Linked DNA regions of Homo sapiens. The protein of the gene in region 1 interacts with the protein of each later gene in a pairwise test. Each region holds a gene or a part of one and is shown on either strand. Other genes may lie near its edges. The genes, in order: KIAA1217, PTK6 and HSBP1.

The links.
Region 2: the proteins of KIAA1217 (region 1) and PTK6 interact in binary tests that used the Homo sapiens proteins (3 or more experiments, as listed by UniProt).
Region 3: the proteins of KIAA1217 (region 1) and HSBP1 interact in binary tests that used the Homo sapiens proteins (3 or more experiments, as listed by UniProt).

The regions. Positions count from the first base shown.
Region 1 is NC_000010.11:24,204,391-24,212,228, forward strand, and holds the start of KIAA1217 (sickle tail protein homolog), read left to right. Parts: upstream 1-4,747; 5' UTR 4,748-4,803; coding exon 4,804-4,873; intron 4,874-7,838. UniProt on the Homo sapiens protein: Required for normal development of intervertebral disks.
Region 2 is NC_000020.11:63,534,283-63,542,131, forward strand, and holds the start of PTK6 (protein-tyrosine kinase 6), read right to left. Parts: upstream 3,095-7,849; 5' UTR 3,033-3,094; coding exon 2,803-3,032; intron 778-2,802; coding exon 656-777; intron 34-655; coding exon 1-33. Other genes in the region: tyrosine-protein kinase Srms, read right to left, coding at 6,536-6,717, 6,909-7,065, 7,157-7,338. UniProt on the Homo sapiens protein: Non-receptor tyrosine-protein kinase implicated in the regulation of a variety of signaling pathways that control the differentiation and maintenance of normal epithelia, as well as tumor growth.
Region 3 is NC_000016.10:83,803,634-83,811,049, reverse strand, and holds the start of HSBP1 (heat shock factor-binding protein 1), read right to left. Parts: upstream 3,073-7,416; 5' UTR 2,974-3,072; coding exon 2,929-2,973; intron 2,371-2,928; coding exon 2,304-2,370; intron 1,746-2,303; coding exon 1,627-1,745; 3' UTR 1,625-1,626; intron 1-1,624. UniProt on the Homo sapiens protein: Negative regulator of the heat shock response. Negatively affects HSF1 DNA-binding activity. May have a role in the suppression of the activation of the stress response during the aging process.

The DNA.
Region 1 (7,838 bases):
AATCTGCGAAATTGTTTGTTAGTGGGGCTTGTAATACGGTCCGTGTGAGGCTCACACCTTTGCTCTAATTATTGTTTAAGATTAATTATTTTTTAATTATTGTTTCAGATTCTTTTATAGGGTCTTTGTTGGGAAACTCAAACAGTATCATTATGTTCCCCTCACATTTGGAAACCTAAGGCGCCCAGAGGGCTTATCTTGGGATCACACATAGGTGGCCATCTGTGCTGGTTTGCCAGGGACAGTCGTGGTGTCTTATTGTCCAGTTGTAATTATTAATAGTGTCTACTTTCCCTCTCACAAATGCTGGTTTATACTAAGTATAAGGTCACCCTAACCACCTGACACATTGCTGTCAAAACTAGGATTGGAGAGCCCACATTTCACATGCGCCAGATCATCCATTTAAGCAAATGTTATCCCAGTTGTTAAAAATCCTTTATTTCTGACTTACAGGGCCTCATACCATAGCAGCCTGTCTTTTAGAAACAGTTAATGTGGAACACATCAAACACGAGGCCTCTGGTTGAAACACTTTTGTTGACTTCTTTGTTTTTCACTTTGTTTTAATTGACTCTCACAGTTATGAATGCCTTTGAAAAGTACATTTTAAGGACTTCAGCAAGCATTAATTATTTCTTTTGTGTCCTGATGTCAAGTCATTTTCAACTATCTGGTTCTTAATAGGATTTAAAGTGAAAAAATATTAAATATGTATCAGGGCAATTCCACTTACTCTTGGTTCTTGCAATGATTTCTCTGTTGAAAAACTTACATAGGCCAGGCACAGTGGCTCACGCCTGTAATCCCAGCGTGATTACTTTGGGAAGCCAAGGTGGGCGAATTACCTGCGGTCAGGAGTTCGAGACCAGCCTGGCCAATGTGGTGAAACCCCGTCTCTACTAAAAATACAAAAAAAAAAAAAAAAAAAAAAAAAAGCCAGGCGTGGTGGCACATGCCTGTAATCCCAGCTACTCAGGATGCTGAAGCGGGACAATTGCTTGAACCCTCGAGGCAGAGGTTGCAGTGAGCCGAGATCGCGCCATTGCACTCCAGCCTGGGCGACAAGAGCAAAACTCCGTCTCAAAAAAAAGGAAAAAATGCCGGGCGCGGTGGCTCATGCTTGTAGTCCCAGCACTTTGGGAGCCCGAGGCAGGCAGATCACAAAGTCAGGAGATCGAGACCATTCTGACTAACACGGTGAAACCCCATCTCTACTAAAAATACAAAAAGTTAGCTGGGCGTGGTGGCATGTGCCTGTAGTCCCAGCTACTTGGGAGGCTGAGGCAGGAGAATCACCTGAACCCAGAAGGTGGAGGTTGCAGTGAGCCGAGATCATGCCACTGCACTCCAGCCTGGGTGACAGAGCAAGATGCTGTCTCAAAAAAAAAAAGGAAAGAAGGAAAAAAGGAAAAATTTACATGAAGGAAGTTGACATGCTTTCCACAACCCTATAATTGGCCTGCTGAGAAATCATATGCAATTGTTTACGATTTTTGTGATTAATTCTCTTTATGGTGAATGCCATTTACGTTGCGTTATCAACACCAATAATGGTCCAGTTCTGTAACGGGTTAGCTATGACTGCAAAATCACCATTTGTCTTTACAGCACTCTTTTATCTCGTCACTTGTCTTTCCTTTTAAATGACATTTGTTTTATGTGGTAGCTCATTTTGAGTCATGAATTGCAACATATGGAACCACTAACCAAGAAATAGTCTTGCACCTTTCCCTGTTAACAGAAACGGAGTTGAAAACTTAGCCTCCTGGTATTATTATTATTCTAGTTCTTTATATGACTGGAGGAAAATCAGATTTCAAGTTCTTCCCGCTTTCCTTATGCCTTTCACAGCAAATTTCAAAGTATAGCAGTAGGCAGATTGCAATGTAATAGCAATTTTTAAGCCCAGAAATTAAATTAAACCAGAAAGAAATACACCTACTTCTAGTTCAAATAGTGTTTCTTCCAGAAAGAAGAACATCTCCACAGTAACAGCAGTGACAATAAGAGTATTTTCATGAAGATCGGAGTTACCAGGTTTATATAGATTGCAGAATACAGCTACTGTTTTCCAGAGACACTGACAATCAGTGCTAAATTGTTAGGAAGGTCTCTGTGCTTTGGAGAAAGATATGGAATAGTCGGTGCAAGGGCAAATAGAGTGCCTTCTCAAATTGTTTTCAGTTCCTCTTCTTAAGGAGGAACAAAAGGCCAGTAAGTAATCCAATAGAAGCTTTTCCCTATAGAATGGTCAGAAAGTTTGATCATTCAAAAGAACATTATTTTACCATAAATACATGTCTAGGTTTCATGATCCTTAATGATTCATGTTAATTCTCTTCCCCCAATGCCTTTTTCTGTTGTGCATATCACAGAGTTTTGTTTCCTGGAATATCAGCAGAGAGGGCAGTGGGCTTGGCCCGTATGGGGGAGGGGAGGGTCCTAGCAGCTGGAAAGCAAGGTCGGCTGACCAAGGGGGTTCCTTGGGCTGCCTGGAAAATGGTAGTTCAGACCTGGTGGGAGACATTTCCCTATTTTTGTCCATCTAGGGGTCAACAGAGGCCTGAAAGACTGCTCTGACACCTTCCAAACAGCCCCCAGGAAATCTTAATCAGCATCTGCCAATGGATCTTTTCTGCCTGGGTTGAGCTAGCCAGGAGGGCCCTGGGGCAGGGTGCTGTTTGTGGCTGCCAACGGCTGTGGCAGCCCTCTGCTGCCTCCTTCATCCTGGGGTTTTTGCCTTTGTGCTACACCAAATGACAGGTAGGAGCTGTTAAGCACGGGCTCTCTGGACACCAGAGCAAGGGGATTGGGGTCACAACCAAAGGCTGCGGGACATCTGATTTGGGCTGCTGCATCTCCTGCTACAGTGTTTCTCTCTCTCTCTCTCACACACACACACACACACACACACACACACACATACTTTTCTCCCACCCTCCTCCCCACTCTTCCTAGCATTAATACTTTAAAGACAAATACACAACAGTATACAAGAATCAGGATGATCTGGACCTGAAAGGCTGAACACAGCAGGGCCCTCCTTCATGAACATTTTGCACCTAAGGAAATAATAAGGTTAAAACTAGATTCATCTGGCCTTTGCCCAGGGGCCACCAGGACAGAAACTGTGTAAGATTAGTTCCTCCTTAAAGCAAGATTGCCAGGTAATTCTGTTGCAAAGTCATAGAGACCTTAAGTTATCTGCCCTGCAAATCCCACTGCCTCTATTCAGGCTGCCGAGGCACTGCTTTAATTTTTTGAAAGATTCACCGCGTCTTCTTGGATTTCAAGAAAAATCCCGTTAAGAATTGAGGGGCTCTCTTCTTCCCCTCCTGACGTGAGTGTAACTCACTTCCTGGTATGTCTCCTTTCCTTTTGGCCTACATCCTTTGTCTGTTAGGTGCTTCCACATCCTTATGTCTTAAATGGCCAAAATACGTCACCCCCACTGCCAAAACACACAGGTCACTCGAGGTCACAATCTGGAACATAGGCTGGCCATTGTTCAGCACACATTCTTGATCTAAATCAATCTCAAACCTTGCTGGAATGCCCTGTAAACTGGGGCAAAGTATGGTCACCAGACTAACCATTGTCCTTTTTTACCCCTCCTGTGACGGGGCTACTACAGGTTACAAAATCGCGCTCTTCCTCCTAGCTACTGTGTTACTCTGAGATATCTGACATCGCAGAGCTAATGTTGCCTAAATTATTTTCCCATCCTCTTTTTTTTTTTTTTTTCGGACATCATGCCTCCTATTTTCACTCTCTGGGAACTCTGCCAGTTTTTCAAGGACTGGGTAAAGAACAAAATAAATATTTGTAGGTGGTTTAAAAGGAGAAGTATGTTGGTTGTAACTCTGCCTGTCCAAAGAAATGCATTTTCACTGTCTTTCAGATTTTTGGAGTCGTTAACTGGGAGAGCTTCAGAAGATTGACTTTACTAGTTTACCTTTCAGATTTGTGATTAAGGGCTGGGTGTGTGTGTGTGTGTGTGTGTGTGTGTAAGTGTGTTGGGGGAGGGAGGAGTCTGAGAAAGTGAGCAAGTACGTAGAAACTTTTTTTTAAAAAGTCCAGATTAAGTGATTGAAATCGACTGTGTGCAAATGACGCTATACCTCTTCATAGATGTTAATCGGGCCCTAAAAAGTTAGTGCCGGAAAGTGCTTACTTACAACACTCAGCATATACTCTTTCTTTCAAATTGTTTGGGATTTTTTTTTAAGGGAGTTCACTGAAATTTGGGAGGTTCAACAGGTTGCTGTTTTTTAATATGTGGATCACCCGATTTGGGAGGCTCACTCTGCCTCTGAGATTAAAGAGATGAGGGCACTGGCTCCCAGCGAAGGCTCTCGGCCTTAATCATGTGTGAAATGTTTTCCTTCCTCGGCTGCAGAGCCTCGGTGGTTTGCAGCAGTGGAACCAGGCAGGCCCAGTTGTGGGTAGGAGAGGCCGTCACCTGTTGAGGCCTCCCCCCCACACCCCCGCATCGCCCTGCCCTGGCAGAGCCCAGCCCCCAGTCCCCGGAGAGCGCGCCTGAGGACGGACGGACGGACGGACGGACAGACCTAGGGACGGAGGGCCAGGGGCAGGGGAGATCCAAGAGGCCCCGCGCTGGAATGCAGTTTTCTCGGGCGAGGGAGACTTTGCACCGGAGTGGAAAATAGTTTGGGGTGGGGTTTCGCACCGTCCCCTCCTCCCCAGCCCCGGGCCCCCTCCCAGGCGCTTTCTGGGAGCTTTTAGAACTGCGCTCTGAAGTTTCCAGAGAGCGAGGAGCTTTTGCGGCAGGCAGAGACAATGGAAGAAAATGAAAGCCAGAAATGTGAGCCGTGCCTTCCTTACTCAGCAGACAGAAGACAGATGCAGGGTAAGTAACAGACCCATTCAAAGATGGAGTTACAGGGACGCGTGCCCCTTGCCGCTTGCTGCTTTTTATAAACTGCAGCTCTGGGACCCGGCAAAGGAAAAAAAAAAAAAAGGCAATTTCTTGGGATGGTACATTTTCCAAACTGAGTAGAGCATAGAGAACTGTGATTTCTTAGGCTTGACTTTATCTCTGGCACGATTTTCTTAAGCAGCAAAAGAGGTGGTGGGGTGATGTCACATTTGTAGTGCAGTGAGCCATCAGCATGAGCTGTATCTCTAAGCAATGACAAATAAATCACTAAGCAGCTTTTAATCATTTCCCCCCGGGGCTCCAGCCACGGGAGAAAGGAGCTGTTTTTGTGAAACTGTCTCTAGGACCGCAGCTTCCATTCATTGGTTGGGGGATTCCATGTGGCAGATGCATGCTGGCTGCAAAGTTTGTGCAGAATTTTAGAGTTAAATCACAGAAACCAGGCATGTTTTATTTTACAGATCCGAGCAGCAGGGGAGGGCTTGAGCATCTGGGTGATAGATAGAACTCTGGATCTTCTTTTATGTTTTAATTCAAAACTTGGGAGTTGTTGGACAATTTTGGTAAATTTTCTCCAGGCAGTTTCCCTTTAATTGTGTTTATAATAGACTTGTCTTTTCCGTAGGGAATTTCCAGAAGCTTATGTTGTTCCAAAGAAATTTCGCACCGGGTTGGGTGGCCAGAGGAGGTCCCTGCTCTCTGGCATCTGATGCCTGTGATGCCAAGAGCTGATTCTGTGGGATCCTATAGGCAGCATGTTCATAAACCACACAGCCCTGGACCACCCGCCCCACCCTCCCTCAGGTTCATGCAGGGGCCAGTACACAACAAAAAGACGTGCGGGAGTGCAGTGCTGTGCGTGGGAGTAGGGATTATGCACAGGGGAAAAGGTGTGTGTTTTATGAAAATGTGAAAGGGAAGTAACACATGACTCATCCACGCTGAAAATGCAAAGCTAAGCCAGTCAGGAGAACTTACAATGACAAGAGATAGAAATCCCCCAGTGAAATGCAGAAAACTTGAAGTTTTGTAATGGCTGGAGAATCCCTGAGTCTGAACAGTCATCTGTCGAAGTGTCTGCCTTCGTGCTGCCAAAGCACAGCACTCTCCTTCAGGCTACCGGGGTCAGTGGCATCCAGTGGAAGATAAGGCTACCTCGTCCCCCTGACCCCCGCAACCCCCCACCCCCATTTTCTAGGACAGGATCCTACTTCAGGAATTCAACCTCTGGGCCTGTCCTGAAAGAGATGACTCAGATTCTAGAGGGGCCATTAGAAAGGGATCCATTTAAGAAATGACTTTCCAACAATCAGGGCAATTCAGAGGCTTCAGAGGCTAGGATGGTCAGCCTGAGACAGTGTGCTCCTTTGCTCACTAATTCATTCATTCAGTGAATATTGAGCATCTGTTATGTAGACGTCACTGTTTTAGCTGCCAGACATCCAGTGGTGAACAAAGCAGACTAAAAATACTTGCCTTCATTTAACTTCCAGTGTAAGGACCAAGTTTCAGGGGGTGGGGAGCTGGTAGAGACAGACAATGAACAAATAAATAAAATATATAGCATGTTAGATGGCACGGCTGCTGGATTTAGCAAATAAAAATACAGGAGGCCCAGCTAAATTTGAATTTCAGGTAAACGGTGAATTTTTTTTTTTTTAGTATAAGTATATCCCATGCCATATTTGGGATATACTTATGTTAAAAATACTTCTCCATTATTTATGTAAAGTGCACATTTAACTGAGCAGTCCTGTATCTTATCTGGCAACCCTATTTGATGGAAATAAGGTTACAGAGAAAAATAAAGCAGGAAAAGGAATAAGGAGTGAAACTGTAAATAGGATTATTAGAAAGAGCTTCGCTGAAGTGATATTTGAACAAAGACAGGAGAGGTAACAGCAGGGATGTAATGTTTTCAAAGAACAGCAAGAACATGGGAGAAGGATGGGAGGAAAAGAGATTGAGAGGTAATCCCAGGCCAGATCACCTAGGGCCCATGAAACCATTGTAAGGACTAGAGCTTTTATTTTGAAAGAGGTGGGAATCTCCTGGCAGGTGGGACTACTTTTTTTTTTTTTTTTTTTTTTTTTTTTTAGAGAGGGTCTCATTTGTCACCCAGACTGGAGTGCAGTGGTGTGATCATAGCTCACTGCAGCCTTGAACTCTTGGGCTCAAGCAATCCTCTGGCCTTAGCTTCCAAATAGCTGGGACTACTGGGACATGCCACCATGCATGGTTGTATTGTATTGTATTGTATTGTATTGTATTGTATTGTATTGTATTGTATTGTATTGTATTTTATTTTATTTTAGAGAAGGGGTCTTGCTATGTTGCCCAGGTGAGTTACAAAGGGATTTGTCTTTTTAAATGGGGTAATACTGGGTGCTGTATTGAGCACAATCCAAGTAGGGTTGAGGGAAGGGCAGGGAGGCCTTTAGGAAGCTTCTGCAGTCAAGGAGGCAAGAACCAGGGCTAGCTTGGACCAGGCGGTGATTAGCAGGCGGTGATAAGCCAGCAGATTCTAGGTGTATATTGAAGGTAATGCCCAAAGCATTTCCTGTAGCCTGGGCAGCATAGTGAGACCCCATCTCTAGAAAAAAAAATTTAGCTAGGCATAGTGCCCTGTAGTCCCAGCTACTTGGGAGGCTGAGGCAGGAGGATCACTTCAGCCAGGAGGTTGAGACTGCAGTTAGCCATGATTACACCACTGCACTCTAGCCTGGGTAACAGTGTAAGATTCTGAAAGAAAGAGAGAGAGAAAGACAGAGAGAAAGAGAAGGAAGGAAAAAGAAAAAAGAAAAAAAAAGAAGAGAGAGGAGGGGAGGAGAGGAGAGGAAAAAAGAAAAGACAAACAAGACAAGACAAAAGCAATTGCTAAAGGATTCAACTTGGGATGTAAGAGAAAAAGAGGAGTCAGAGACAACTTCCAAAA
Region 2 (7,849 bases), on another chromosome or scaffold:
TCTTGTAGTGCCGCACAGCCTGCGTGTCCCGCACTGGGAGGGAGAGCGTGAGCTGTGTGGCCACCCCAACTCCGACGCCTCCCTGCGTCCCCAGCCCTGCTGGCCACACCTGCGCAGAGTTTCTGGGTCCCCACAGTTGCTGTTGGTGCTTCCTCAGTACCACCCCTGCCTCCCCTCCCTCAGAACGGCTCCCTCCTGCCCTGCACGCTCTGGCCAAGCTCTCTGGCCCCTCCTGCCCCCGTGCCAGGCAGCCAGTGGCCTCCGCCTGGATGGCAGCTGCCTAAAATCCCAGCCATGCTGAGATCCTCAGGGGCAGGGATGGGGTTTCTCTGCGCCCCGCACACCCCAGGCTCAGGTCTCATGCTGGGCGAGGTTCCCATGGGTGCTGAGGACCTCCCACGAGTGCCTCGGGCAGGGCTGGCTGGAGAAGCCCCTGCCCTCCCAGGGAGGGGCCCTGCCCCACGACTACCCTAGCAGCCAGTGACCCAGGCCCCAGGGAGGAGCGGGCCAGGTGGGCGGAGGGGATGGGAGCTCCCTGGAGAGGAGCCCATGTCCCCCGTCTCAGCCAGAGCGAGCCGGGTTCACCACGTGGCTGGGAGGGCTTAGAGCCAGGAGCCCCCGCAGGCAAGCACAGGCTCGGAGGCCGGGGCCGCACCCGACAGGACGTAGTCGGCACTCGGCTTCTCGCTGACCCTGATCAGGAAGGCGCCCGTGGCGTTGCCCTCGGCCTGCAGCCGACGCACAGCTTCCGAGCGGGAGATGCAGCCAAAGAACCACCTGCAGGGGAGGAGTCTGAGAACACGCGGACCTGGGCCCACCCCACGTGGACCCCACGCTGGCCCCAGCCTGCCCGCCTGGAACCCCAGCCGCCCTTGCCTGCCACCTCAAGCTCCCAGCCCTGACCACAGCTGCTCTCAGGAGCTGTCGCTGACCCAGACGCCCTGAATGTCCCGAAAGGCCAGGACAGGCCCCTGAGGACCCGGCGGGGGCAGGGGCAGGCGCTACCACACCCTGCCCTGAGTGGCCCGAGTCTAGGGGTCAGAGCCTAGGGTGGAGCTGGGGAGGGCAGCTGAGCAGGATGGCTGCCCAGAGCTGCCTGCACACACCCATGTGTGACGCACGCTCACACACACACAGTCACAAACCCCCACACATGCGCACAGTTCACCCGCACACCTGAACACACACGCGCATGTGTGCTCACTTGCCCACACGCTCACACGCACGCACACACAGCCACTCGCGCGCACTAACTCCCGGCTGCGGGGTGTGGGCCAGCCCTGGACTGTGGACTTCCAGGTGGAGCTTGCAGAAGCTCCAGGTGACCTGCGCCCTTTGTGTGTCTGACTCCCTCAGGTCACTGGAACACAAACCCCACACAGAAGACCACGGCCCAGCATGGAGCCCCTGGGGTCCACCCCCTCCACTTCCGCACACCTGGAAGCACTGCCCCACCTGCCCCTCCAACCACCTGGCCTCCCGCCCCCCCCCTCACCTGGCCTCCCGCCCCCTCCTCACCTGGCCTCCCGCCCCCTCCTCACCTGGCCTCCCGCCCCCCCCCTCACCTGGCCTCCCGCCCCCTCCTCACCTGGCCTCCCGCCCCCTCCTCACCTGGCCTCCCGCCCCCCCCTCACCTGGCCTCCCACCCCGTCCTCACCTGGCCTCCCGCACCCCCCTCACCTGGCCTCCCGCCCCCCCCTCACCTGGCCTCCCGCCCCCTCCTCACCTGGCCTCCCGCCCCCTCCTCTCCTGGCCTCCCGCCCCCTCCTCTCCTGGCCTCCCGTCCCCTCCTCTCCTGGTCTCCCGCCCCCCCCACCTGGCCTCCCGCCCCCCCTCACCTGGCCTCCAGCCCCCCCCACCTAGCCTCCCGCTCCCCCCCCCACCTGGCCTCCCACCCCCTCCTCACCTGGCCTCCTCCCCACTTCTCACCTGGGCGAGTTCTCAGGACTCAGGGTCTTTGCACCTGGGAGCTGACCAGCCTCCGGCCAGACCCCACCCCTGCACCCCTGCTCACTAACGAGGTCGTGGGTCTGCGCGTGACCCTGCTAACGAGGTCGTGGGTCTGCACGTAATAGAGGGGTCTCCACCATGGGCCCCTGCCCGACGGCCTCTTTACAGCCTCCCCTGCTTGTTGCTTGGGTCCCCCGGGAGCTAACCCTACACAGCCTGTGACTCACGCACACACACAGTGGGTGCCCAATCACTGATGAGAAACGCGGGATCTCAGGAGCGTGACCCTCCTCAGCCTGAGCTCCGGGCAGCTGTGGAAGCCAGGGCCAGGCCACACCAGCTGCTGTCTGGTTCCCCGCAGGGCACAGCAGGCAGGAAGTTTGCCCGGCAGCCGGCCCGCTCCCCTAACTAGGTCGTGTGTCTGGTTCCGGCACTTTGGAAACTGGGCAAGCTTCAAGCTTCGTTTCCCCCAAAGGCCCTGGAACGCTCCGACAGACCTTGTCACTGGCCACCGGGCCCCAGAAGTCCACCCTGGACCCTCTGTCCTCCCTGGGTCCCGGCAATGCAGCGTCCACCCCCGAGCTGTGACAAGGATGAGCCCAAGGCAGGGGCCGTGCCCTCTGACCCCCGTGCTCCAACTCCCGCAGGGACAGTCCTGGGCACTCCTGGGCGCCAGCGCATGGGGCCTGCAGGGAGGATCAAGCGGGATGCCCAGCCTGGACTTTGGGGTGCAGGAAGATGGAACCGGGGTCCCCACCTTCTTGGGCCTCCCTGAGCAGCCCAGAGCCCTGTCCCTCCCCTGTGCCTAGAGGGTGGCCTGTGCCAAAGCTCCCAGCAGCCTAGGACACGCACGGTTCCGACTCCACCGTCTCCCTCTCGGCCAGGTAGTTGTGGGGCACATAGCCCTGGGCCACGGCCCCACCCGCCTCGTCCAGCAGCGTGGCCCACCACCACTGCTCCTCCTTCCTGGCCACGTGGAAGACGTCCCCCGCGCGGAAGCTCAGCTCCTCGTCCGTCCGGGACTTGAAGTCCCAGAGGCCCACATACTTGGGGCCCAGGTGAGCCTGGTCCCGGGACACCATGGCGGGCGGGCGCAGCGGCAGGACCAGGCTGTGGCCCAGCTGGAGCACCCAGAGCTGGGCGTGGCAGGCGGGCCGTCCCACTTCCTCATGACAGGCCGGGAAGCAGCCACACCCAGCACCCACAGGCGCTCCAGAGCACCCCGGCTCCTCCTGAGGGCCCAGCCGGCCCCACAAGTCCTCAGGCCCACTGGGGCCCATCTGAGCACTTAGCGCCCGCACTATGGGAACCCACTGGGCAAGCACCGCCAGGGCCGGCCTGAGCGCAGGAGAGGGGGAGGAGGACCTCCCGGTTGGGGCTTCTTGGGGGTCCAACTTATGGACACTCAGGCACTCAGGGAAGCCAACGGCCCTCTGGGAACAAGCCTCGCAGCCTGAGGGCAGGAAGGTGAGGGCTGCAGGCGCTGCCTTCCCAACCCTCAGAGCTGCGGGGGCACAGGTGGGGGCCGCCTCTCTCCCCGCTTCCGGCAGCTTCCCCTCCACCCGTCGGTGCCCTCACCCAGCCCCAGACTCCACCCCTGAGCACAGGGCCCAATGTCAGGAGCTGCTGTGGGCAGGCGTCCTGAGAGCGGCCTCATGGGCAGGCCCGCCCTCGGGTAAGGGCCAAGCAGGGAAGAGGGAGTGGAATCAGGGCAGCGACAGCTGTGTGGGTCGGCCCGGAGGACTTCCCGGAAGAGGAGGGCCCGAGGGTTTTGGGGGATCCCCGGGGAGGCAGAGCCAGGGGCACCCACGGCTGAAGAAACGGGCACTGCCTTCCTCCACACGGACGCCAGGGGGCAGGCAAGGACCGTGAGTGCGGCCTGGAAGCGCCCATGGCGCTGGGGCCCAAGGCCACAGGTCCCTCCCAGGCAGCCCCTCCCGCCTCCAGCCTCTGCCTCCTCCTGTCCAGCCCGCAGGACCCCTGCCCCCTTCCAGCTGGCCTCCCTTCTCCCGACTCATGCCTGAGTGAGCCCTGCCGTGACCCCCACCTGCACCCGACGGCCGCCTGCCCCCCAGCCCCTGAGACTCGGGACACCCCCTCCCTGGAGGCCCCTCCCCGCCCCACCCTCCCACTGACCCTACTGTGTCCACCCGGGAGCTCCAACCCAGGGACCTGGACTGGCAGCCACAAGGGGGCAGGAAGGGGCGGGAAGGGAAATTCAAAGTCTGCAAGGGGTGGTAAGGAAAGTCCCTAAACTGCGTATTTCAACTTTTATTTTTATTGCAAAGAGAAATAATGGCACCTTCCACTCATTGTTTTGAGATTAAGAACAATAATCTGGATTATTTAACAGGCTCATAGATTTCTGGGCAGCCCAGCTCAGCGCTGACCAAGGTGGGGAGGGGCAGCGGGGTGCCGGCCTGGGCAGTGTCCCTCAGGCCCTCCCAGCTCTGTCTGGGGTCGGTTGGGGAGGATGCAGGGGGAGGGGTGGGGGGTGGGGAATGCGGAAGGAGGGTGCCGGGGCACCTGGCCGGGCAGCGTCCCTCAGAGCCCGGCCAGACTCTGGGCCCGTGAGTCTATGTCCAGGAAGCCTCGAGTATCCCTGAGTTCGGACGTGCAGGACTTTCAGTCTAAGCCACACCAGGAGGCAGGAACGTCCCCAGCCCCTCCCAGATACCCAGGAGCACCAAACCTGTTCAGCTGGTGGCTGGCGAGATGCCTAGGAGGGCACAGGTGCCACAGACACACCTGGTCCCCTTAATCCCAGTGGCGGCTGCAGAGAGCACAGAGGGCGAGGCCTTCTGTGCCAGAGGAGCCCCCAGGCTGCTGTGCTGGGGACCTGCCAGAACTGGAAGCTCAGCTCAAGGCCTCAGTGGGCCCAGGTACCAGAACCAGCCCCTCCCCTAGGTTCTCCCATGCAGATGGAGCTGGGCAGGTGGCCAGGGTCCCAAAGGCTCAGATAAAGCCTCTTGCCTCCACCATCTGCAGGGGTCCTGGTTCCTGCTGCTTCCCTCCGCTTGGCCTTGTTCCTCCGATGCACGGGCCCCAGGAAGCCCCCGCGCTGCCTCCGTTCTCGGAGCCTCCGAGTGGCCTCTTCCTTCCCCGGGGCCACCTGTCTCTGCACACGGGAGTCTCATCTCTTAGCTCCCTCCTGAGCCAGGCTTTGGCCGGGGCCTGTGGACGGCAGCCATCAGCACTTCGGCTCAGCAGGTACAGAGCTGACCCCAACTCTAGGGGACAAGGACTCAGTCAGGCCTGAACTTGTCTCCAAACTTTCTGTCCCCGAAAGCCTTCTGGGCACAGCTGCCAACCTGGGCTCCCAGGAGGGTGGGGGGCAGGGTCTCCGGGGGCCACAAACAGACCCCACCGGCCCCCTTGCTTCTTGACGTGTTTCACGAAGACCTGAGCAGAAGCTTCCCTGAGCCAGACGTGGGGAGACGAGGGCGGACCCTGCACATCCCTGCCCCCTCCTGCCTTGGTGACCCCCGAGGACTCACACCCAGAGGCTTCCTGAGCCACTTGCTGCCCAGCATACCATGGCATCTACCTCCGAGCCCCCAACCGACCCTGCCTGACCCTGCACAGGCAGAAGACTCCAAATCCCCCACGGCCCACCCTGAGGCCCCTGGAAATAGCCTCCAAGGGCAGCTCCCAGGTCACCAAGCCTCCCGGCCCACCCTTCCTGTGCCACCTGGAACCCACCCAGGGAGATGGAATCGGCAGCTCCTGCCAATGCCCTTGGGGCTCACGCTCTCTGGGCACCATGATGTCCTGGGCTGGGGGTCCGGGCGGCATGGGGGCCGCTCCAACCTGCATTTTCTAGCCACGTGGACCCGTACGCTCCAGCTCCTGGGTCTGGGTTTGGGGGGCTGAGCCTGTGTGTGATGTGCGCCTGTGTGCGTGTCTGAGTGGGTCAGTCCCGGCTTACTGAGTGCTGTGTGCGTGAGTGGGTTTGTGCACAGGCCGCCAGTGTGTCTGTGAGGGGCAGGTGACGGTGCCACCCCGTGCCTACATACCACACATCCAGTGGGGTCAACACCACGGTCTGCCTGGGAGTCAGCACTGGTCATTTCCACAAACCCAAGCTGGGACTAGGGAGAGAACTGGGCCTTTGGCTCTTCACCCTGGGAGGGAGTCCAGGGGACCCAGGCAGGAGACACACAGGGCTCAGGGTTCCTCACCCAGAGCCTCCGAGGCTTCTACCCACCCTCCTGTGCCGTTGTCTCTCTTGAGAGGCCAGGGACACGTGTCACACTGCACGGGGAACGTCAGCCCCAGCCCTCCGTCTGCACGAGTCACACTGCACGGGGAACGTCAGCCCCAGCCCTTCGTCTGCACGAGTCACACTGCATGGGGGACGTCAGCCCCAGCCCTCCGTCTGCACGAGTCACACTGCACGGGGGACGTCAGCCCCAGCCCTCCGTCTGCACGTCTGCCTGGTGCACGAACATGTGTGCACGCCAGGGCCTGAGGCCCACAGCCAGAGGCTCCTCGGTCCGGCAGACCGGCATCCCTTCGAGTTGGCGCTCTGCAGGGAGGAGGGGCTGGCCTGGCTGGAGCCCAGAGCGTTGGGTCACGTGAGGACTCAGGGGTGGCATCTGTGGATGGCGTGCAGCTTCTCCCGCAGCGTGGCGAAGGAGGGCCGTTCCTCGGGGCTGCTCCTCCAGCACTCCAGCATGAGCACGTAGACCTCCGCCGGGCAGGCAGCCGGGCGCGGCAGCCGGTACCCTCGCATGATCTGCTGCAGCGTCTCGTGGTTGGTCATCCCTGGGAGGCGCGGGGCAAGAGCTGCCTCGATTCTGCCTGGGGGTCCCTATGGAGGAGGCCTCCTGTAGCCCCCCATGTCATCTGCCTGCCCTTGGCCAGACCCTCCAACCCCTTGCCGACAGCGTCCAGGCCCGGGGCCAGTGACTCCTGGGCAGAGCCTGCATCCTCCCTCTGGCTGCCTGGGGACCCACCTTCATAGGGACACTGGCCATAGGTGAAAACCTCGTGCAGCAGGACGCCGAAGGACCAGACGTCTGACTTCTGGGAGAAGACACGATAATTGGCCGCCTCAGGCGCTGTCCACTTGACCGGGATCTTGGAGCTGCTGCTCGGGGAGTAGATGTCGTCCTGGGGGCGAGGGAAGGCCCCTGGTAGGGCAGGTGGACCGGGGTCCCCTCACCCACCCCCTCTGGGTCAGGGGCCCAGAGCCTCCGCTGACCTTGAGCAGCCGGGCCAGGCCGAAGTCAGCCACCTTGCAGGCCAGGCCGTCGTCCACGAGCACGTTCCGGGCGGCCAAGTCCCGGTGCACAACGCGCTGCTCCTCCAGGTAGCTCATGCCCTCAGCCACCTGGCAGGCAAAGCCCAGGAGTGGCGGCAGACGCAGGGCCCGGCCCTCGGGGGCTGCAGGAGACAGCGCGGGGTCTTTTAGGGCACGGGGCCAACGGCCGGTGAGGCCAGCGTCCACCCACGTCACCTTCCCCCATGCCTCAGCCTCCTCATCTCTAAGACGTGGCGAGGATGGCATGGCCGGCTAAGGCCACGGGAAGCCCCAAGTGAGACAGGGCGAGGGTCCTGTACTCACCACAGTGACCCGGCAGCCGGCCCAGGCCCCCGACAAAGACCAGGGCAGAGAAGAGCCAGAGGCTGGGCTGGGTCTATGTCACATTAGACCAAGGCTGGTGACCCAGATGGGACCGCGCCCCCCACCGCCCCCGAACACCAGCTCCAGCCCCGGAGCCACAAGGCTCTGGCCTGGCCCAGACCTGACGCCAGCCCCCTGTTGGCTGGAGACCAGACAGGGATGGGATCTGCAGCCGGGGCCACCTGCTCCCGGTAGAGAGGCCCGGTTCACCTCGGAAACCCCGCAGGTTCAGCTCTGCGCCAGGAGGGAAGGGGCGGTCGCAGGCGCGTC
Region 3 (7,416 bases), on another chromosome or scaffold:
ACATAACCCATAGAAAGCAGTTATGTGATTTACTCACACAGTGAATGAACCCCACCTACTGTGAAGATAAAAGCAAATTTTAGAGTCTGTCTTCAACATCCCAAATCTGTATTTCACAGTGACTTAAAATGTGGTCCACAGCAAGCCCAGAAAATAGGAAATTAGGCATGTTTTACTGTACATTCTGCTTAGTACTCTACGAATCTAAAAATACTCAGGAACCATTTTATTTTATTTTTTTGAGACAGAGTCTTGCTCTGTCTCCCAGGCTGGAGTGCAGTGGCATCATCACGACTCACTGCAAACTCTGCCTCCTGTCTCAGTCTGCCAAGTAGCTGGGATTACAGGCGTGCACCACCACACCCAGCTAATTTTTGTACAGACAGGGTTTCACCATGTTGGCCAGGTTGGTCTCGAGCTCCTCACATCAACTGATCTGCCCTCTGCCTGCCTTTGCCTCCCAAAGTGCTGGGATTACAGGCATGAGTCACCACGCACCAGTACCTTTTTTTTTTTTTTTTTTTTTTTGAGACAGAGTCTCACTCTGTCGCCCAGGCTGGAGTGCAGTGGCGTGACCTCGACTGCAACCTCCGCCTCCCTCAGCAACATTCATTTTTATAGAGAATTAAAATGTTATAAATGAAACAAGAGAAAAGTGAGTCTAAAACTTATTTTTCACACATACAGAGGAAAAGGATCACCATGCACTCTGCTGAGTGATTCTGTACATTTACCTATCTTGCTGTGTAGGTACTTTGAATTACTAGGCTTTCCTCTGACATCTGAAACTATTCAGAGGAAATTTAAATGAACTCCAGGGTAAAAGCTTAATGTGGCCACAATCTAGTTCACCTATGTCAAGTTACCAAGAAAGTCTCCAGAATTTAAGCCATTTAAGAAGGTGGTAATGTGGGTGACTTATCAGTTATTTCCATAAAAAAAAAAAAAAGCAATGGAAAATCTTCCAGTGACAGGCTTTATAGGCCAACAAAAAGACACCTTAATTATTAGCTGGAATGATAAAAACTCAGTGGTTATCTAATGTTAGCCAGTGGTCTTCACTAATAGTGACAGAAGTCTAATTAATAAAAACTGGGAAAATAAATTCGGTGTAAAGAATGAGTTTGGCATGAAAAATTTCAAAACATCAAGTCCACAGCAGGTAAACAATACAGTGATGCTTGCTGGGATCATGGCTGGGAACTGATCTACAGAATGTCTGACTACATACAAATTATACTTACAGGTTCTCTCTATTCTTTTAAGACAAAATAAAAAAAAAGACCGGGCACGGCGGCTCACACCTGTAATCCCAGCACTTTGAGAGGCTGAGGCGGGCAAATCACTCAAGGTCAGAATTCGAGACCAGCATGACCAACATGGAGAAACCCCGTCTCTACTAAAAATACAAAATTGGCTGGGTGTGGTGGCACAAGCCTGTAATCCCAGCTACTCGGGAGGCTGAGGCAGGACAATCGTTTGAACCCAGGAGGGCAAAGGTTGCAGGGAGCCGAGATCGTGCCATTGCACTCCAGCCTGGGCAACAAGAGCAAAACTCCGTGTCAAAAAAAAAAAAAAAAAAAAAAAGAAAAGAAAAGAAAAAAAAAATTGCCCCCTTCCTCACCTTCAACTCTTTTGCGTGGCAGGTATCTTGTTTTCACTTTCCAGTTCTTCCACCCCAGCCTGTGTCATGAGGTCCGCGATATTCTTTTCCAGATCATCAATGCGACTACTCATATCATCAAGTGCTGAAGTTAAAGACAACGCGTGCCAACATCTCATTGAGCCTTTTTCCTCCCGTCCCTGCAGACTACAGCCTTAAACACAACGACTTTAGGGAAACTGGTCTTCCAATTTTCTTTCGACACTGTTACACGCTGGTGGGTAAGAGTACAGGACTGTGGGGCATGGCTACCCCGCATCGGATTCCAGCCCTGACCCTTACTAGTGATGGAACCCCTAAACCTCAATTTATTCATTTGCTAAAGATGATAACACTACAACCCACTCATAAGGTCATGCTGAGCATCAAAAGACACACACAAAAGCGCTTAGTTCACAGTGCATGGTCCACCACACCAGCTATTAGGATTGGTAGACGTATGCTCCTTGAGCCAGGAGTCTAACTCAGCTTTGCCCCTAGCTCTCGGCGCAGTCCTTCTCAGAAACACAGTACAATCCAAGCTCAAATTCTACAAGTGAATGGCTGAAGCTAGCCTGAAAACTACTCATTTATCCCCACCACTGCCCGGCAAATAGGCTCCAAAGGCCCACAGGAGGCCGACTGCAGATAAAAAGGATATTTCTCCCAATGATCTGGTCAGACATGGTCTGAAATTTATCTTGCATCTGCTGCAGGAGTGTCTGCACCTAAGAAAAACCGAAACAAACAAACACGGTCCACATCGATCCTGAGACAACTTCCTGGGATCAGGACGCAAGCCCTGGTCCCGGGGTTCCAGCCCCATTTCTGCCTCTGGACAGCTGTGCGGCCTTCAGCAAGATCTTCCTTCTCTGGGCTTCCGTTTTCCAACCTGTCCAATTAGACTGCTGGGCTGGGGAGGCCGCTGCGACTCAAAGCTCAGGGTCTTTAGGTTGTTTCTGCCGGGCTGGGGCACCCGGGGGTGTGTGAGGAGTTGAAGGGCGGGGAGGGTGTCAGAGGTAGGCGGGAGGGACCCGGAGGGCGTTCGCGACAGATGAATGGGGCTACTGGAAGGGGTCGGGCTTGGGGGCGCCCGCGGGGAGACTGGCCCGCACCGAGCGCCCCGGGGGTCAAGGTGGCCGGGAGCCTCGGCCAGAGACGCTTCCAGAAACGGGGCCTCGGCAGACGCCACGCGCGGCCGCGGTGGGCGCGCCTCTGTCCAGCAGGGCTTGGCCCGGCGCCGCCCGGGAAGGCCGCGGCCTCCGGCCCTCACAGCCGTCCCTTACCACCGAGGTGAGGTCCTGCACGGTCTTGGGGTCAGTCTCGGCCATCTCCCCGATGCCCAGCTTGGCGGTGATGTCTCAGACCGTAACCTACACTTCCGTTTGTCCGCTCAGTCGCCCCGGGCCGCTGCTTCTCGCGACGAGACTGGCAGCTCGCGGGACCGCGGGGCATTATGGGAGTAGTAGTTTCTCCCGCACCGGAAGGGCCTCGAGGCCGCGCGCTTCCGTTCCAAGGAGCGGCCCCACCCCACTCTCCCCGCCTTCTTTCGCATAGCCCCTCCCCTCCCTCTATGCCCCGCCCCTCACGCAGCGCGCCGTCAGTGGGGTGGAAAGTGAGACCAACTCAGAAATGGAGCAATAGAGGCAGGGAGTGGTCTTGGCCTCTCTTCCAGGCTGTAGTCAGTCGAAAGACGGCTCTGGGGTTTCTTTGGCCTGTCGGGACGAACTTACAGAACTTTTGCCCTTCAACAAGCCCCACTGTACCCTTGTAACTGCCCCCAAGCCAAGGAACATGACCCACCCCTACCCGCCCCGGGAGCCCCATGGCTCCTGTCCTGTTCTGTCATCTCCACCCTATGAAGGTGGCCAGCGTCTGGAGTTTAGCCCAGTAGGTTCATTGTGCCCGTCAGGTTCATATGAGGGGATTCAGACAGGAAGCTGTCCATCATGCCTGGCTTCTTTCACTCCACGCAATGCCTGCTGTTGAGTGGGGAAGGCTTCCGGCATCAGGGTTAGACTGTGGGTTTGGGTGTTGAAGGAGGTGGGCACTGCTGATTTGGAACCTCAAGTTCCAACCCCACAGGTGGTCTTTAGGATTGGGTCTCATGGCAAGGGGATAGGAGAGTCCTTGACTGCGGGCCTGGCATGTTCTGGAAACTTTCACACATCTCATTTAAGGACTGTGCTATGTGAGGGGTCAGCTCCAGTTTGACTTTAGCTAGGGAGAGGCTGTAAGGTGTTAGAGCTGTTACGGGAAAGGGTCCTGATCCAGACCCCAAGAGAGGGGGTTCTTGGATCTCATGCAAGAAAGAATTCAGGGCGAGTCTGTAAAGTGAAAGCAAGTTTAAGAAAATGAAGGAATAAAAGAATGGTTACTCCATAGACAGAGCCCTGAGGGCTGCTGGTTGCTCATTTTTATAGTTATTTCTTGATTATATGCTAAACCAGGGGTGGGTGATTCATGCCTCCCCTTTTTAGACTATATAGCGTAACTTCTTGACGTTGCCATGGCATTTGTAAACTGTCATAGCGGTAATGGGAGTGTAGCAATGAAGACAAGCAGGGTTCACTCTTATTGCCATCTTGGTTTTGGTGGGTTTTGGCCGGCTTCTTTACCGCAAGCTGTTTTATCAGCAAGGTCTTTATGACCTGTACCTTGTGCTGACCTCCTATCCCATCCTGTGACTTAGAATCCTTTAACTGTCTGGGAATGCAGCCCAGTAGTTCTCAGCCTCAGTTTACCCAGCTCCTATTCGAGATGGAGTTGCTCTTGTTCAAACGCCTCTGCCAGACCCACCAGTGTCTCTAACAAACCCGGAATCCAGTTGGCCTTGAGGCATGAGACTTCAACTCCCTTTACCACCCCTTCCCCCTCACTCACACCTTTGCCCCTCACCCTTCACACCTCATCCTTTCCTATAGAGAGATCTTCCTTTCTGTGTAAGTATACACAACTTTTTTGTAATTGGCTGTTGTCAACTGGTATTTGGCTAGTGCTTTACCCGACTACTTGAAATAAAAATATCTCAGTGTTTTAAGTTAATCCTCAGAAGACCCTGTGATATAATTATCATAATTTTACATTTTTGAGAAAACAGATGCAGAGGCGTTAAGAAACTGGAACAAGGTCATCAAATTAAGGAAGTAAGAGACGCAGGACTTCCTGACTCTGCATCTTCTCCTTTTTTCTCACCATTCTAGAATTCTCTGAGTTTTTTGAGCTTAGAGCAGAGTTTCTCAAGAGCTGCAATACTGGCATTTGAGTCAAGTCGTTCTTTATTGTTGGTGGTGGAGGGGGCACCCTGTATATTGTAGGACGTTGGGCAGCATCTCTGACTTCTACCTACTAGATGCCAGTATCTCAGTTTTCTTAAAAGACTTTTTTTTTTTTTTTTTTTTTTTTGAGATGGAGTCTTGCTGTGTTGCCTAGGCTGGAGTGCAGTGGCACCATGTCGACTCACTGCAACCTCCGCCTCCCCGGTTCAAGCGATTCTCCTGCCTCAGCCTCCTGAGTAGCTGGGATTACAGGTGAGCACCACCATGCCCAGCTAATCGTAAAAGACTTTTCATAAAACTTCAGAACTCCTTAAAAACTAGTGAATAGCCAAGGTGAAGAAAGCCCTCAGGCTTCTGACTTTAGACCCCAATCCCTGGGACTCCCACACTCAGCAAAGAAAGCTGGGTGCCTGCACCCTGGATCTCTGAGCAAACCTGTCTTATGGCTGTGGGCAACTCAGGAACATGAATTAGCACGAGAATCTGGAGTTTTTCTTTCCTTTTCTGGTAAGACACTTGTGGTTTTTTTTTTTCAAATTCCAATTGGAAATTTGCTTTACATGAACAACAAACAAACTTGATACTCTTTTAGTGGAGGCATTATTTGTTCCTTTATTTTTTGCACTTAAACAGACAGGCAGTATGCTTTCTCTGTGTGGAGACCAAGGTCTGTTAAAGGGCTGCTTTTCACGGAAGCTTCACTAATTTATACTCATGGCTGACATACTCACCTTGTGGGGCTGACACACCGAACCTAACTGAATATTGTCCCATTAACAAAACTAATGTATTACGTGTAAGGCACCAGTAATTAACCTTTAAACTTCGGTTTTGAACAACTCTCATTTTTAACCTTTATTTAAGTGTCATAGTTGTCTTACCTCCTCTTGGCATTTTTTTTTTAAAGCTCTTCCTAGATTAATTGCATGTTGTAACTCCCTTTTTCCATTCAAGACAGTTTTGTTTTACGTGCGCTTATTATGGTACTTTTATAATTGCTTTTTGGTTCTCTGGGCCATTCTTTTGACATGCCTCCTTTCTTGGATCTGTACTATGATAGGTGGCTGGGCATGGTGGCTCATGCCTGTAATCCCAGCACTTTGGGAGGCTGAGGCAGGCAGATCACTTGAGACCAGGAGTTCAAGACCAGCCTCGCCAGTGTGGCGAAACCCCATCTCTACTAAAAATACAAAAATTAGCTGGGCTAGGTGGCGTGCACCTGTAATCCCAACTATTCAGGAGGCTGAGCCAGGAGAATCGCTTGACCTGGGGAGGCAGAGGTTGCAGTGAGCCGAGATCTATCCCCTGCACTCCATCCTGGGCAACAGATTGTGACTCTGTCTCAAAAAACAGTAATAATAAAATACACTATGGAAGGTGTTGGTCTGTCCATGTGACCACATGCAATGAGGTGCTTTGTGCGTTTGCCTTGTGTGAGCAGCGATGGAATGATCCTAGCGGGGCCTTGGAGGAACTGGAATGTTCTTTGCCTAGTTGCACCTGCGTCAGCTCTGTAGGCCCAGCCCTGGGGCCCAGCAGCTGCTCCCCTGGTTTGCTTTCCTCCCAGGTTGCCTCATGCTGCTGCTGAGCAACCTTCACCTGATGGGCGGTGCCACAGCAGGGTCAGTGAAGGGTGCCCCTTCCTTCTAGTGACCTGGGCTGCCCTAGCCCTGGCCCTTCAGTAGCCATTCCAAACCTTTCTGGTCCCCCCAAATCCAGGACTTTATCCCCTTCACCCTCAGAGGATGACCTTATATTCTATTTTGTGGAGAAAATGGAGACTGTCCATCAAAACCCCTTAACTCCCGTCCTGCGTGCATTCCTAAGTTCCTACATTAACCCCCGTGTCACTAGCTAACGATCCTTTCTGTCTCAGGAAGCAGTGTTCTTCCTCGCGCACAGGGCTCTGCGTTTGTCTAAGGCAGAGAGACCTGGGCCCTGATCCCATTCTCTTTCCTCAACTCCAGGAACTTGCTTCCTGCATTCATTTTCTTTTTTCCAATGATTCCTCCTTCTCAGCACATAAAAGTGACCAACCCCTCGCCCCACCCCCGCTGCACAAAAAACAAATAGAAAATGGAAACCAGTCCAACCAGGGTGAACCTCCACTGACTGTGTGCCCTTGTTGAGCTACTGCTCATAGGGGAGCTTCTAGAAAGGAAGGACTTATTGTCTTAGTTACTTGATCCACTTCCTTACCTCCTGTTCATGCAACTTTGCTTGTTTTGCTTCTACTAAAATGGTTCTAGGTGCTGTGTGGACAGGTGATACAAAAGCCTGACTCACACGGTTGACATTCATTCATTCCATTTTCATTTCTCTTTGAGTGATCCTGACAAGCAGAGGGTCTCAGGTGGATATTACTGTGTCTTTGAGACCTCTCTAATCCTTATCTATCTCTCATTTTAATACAGAGAGTTTCATACGCAGACCTTAAGTAGACATAGTATCCAGCTAAAAGGTAATTATGCTTTTTTGTTTGTTTTCATTGTATTT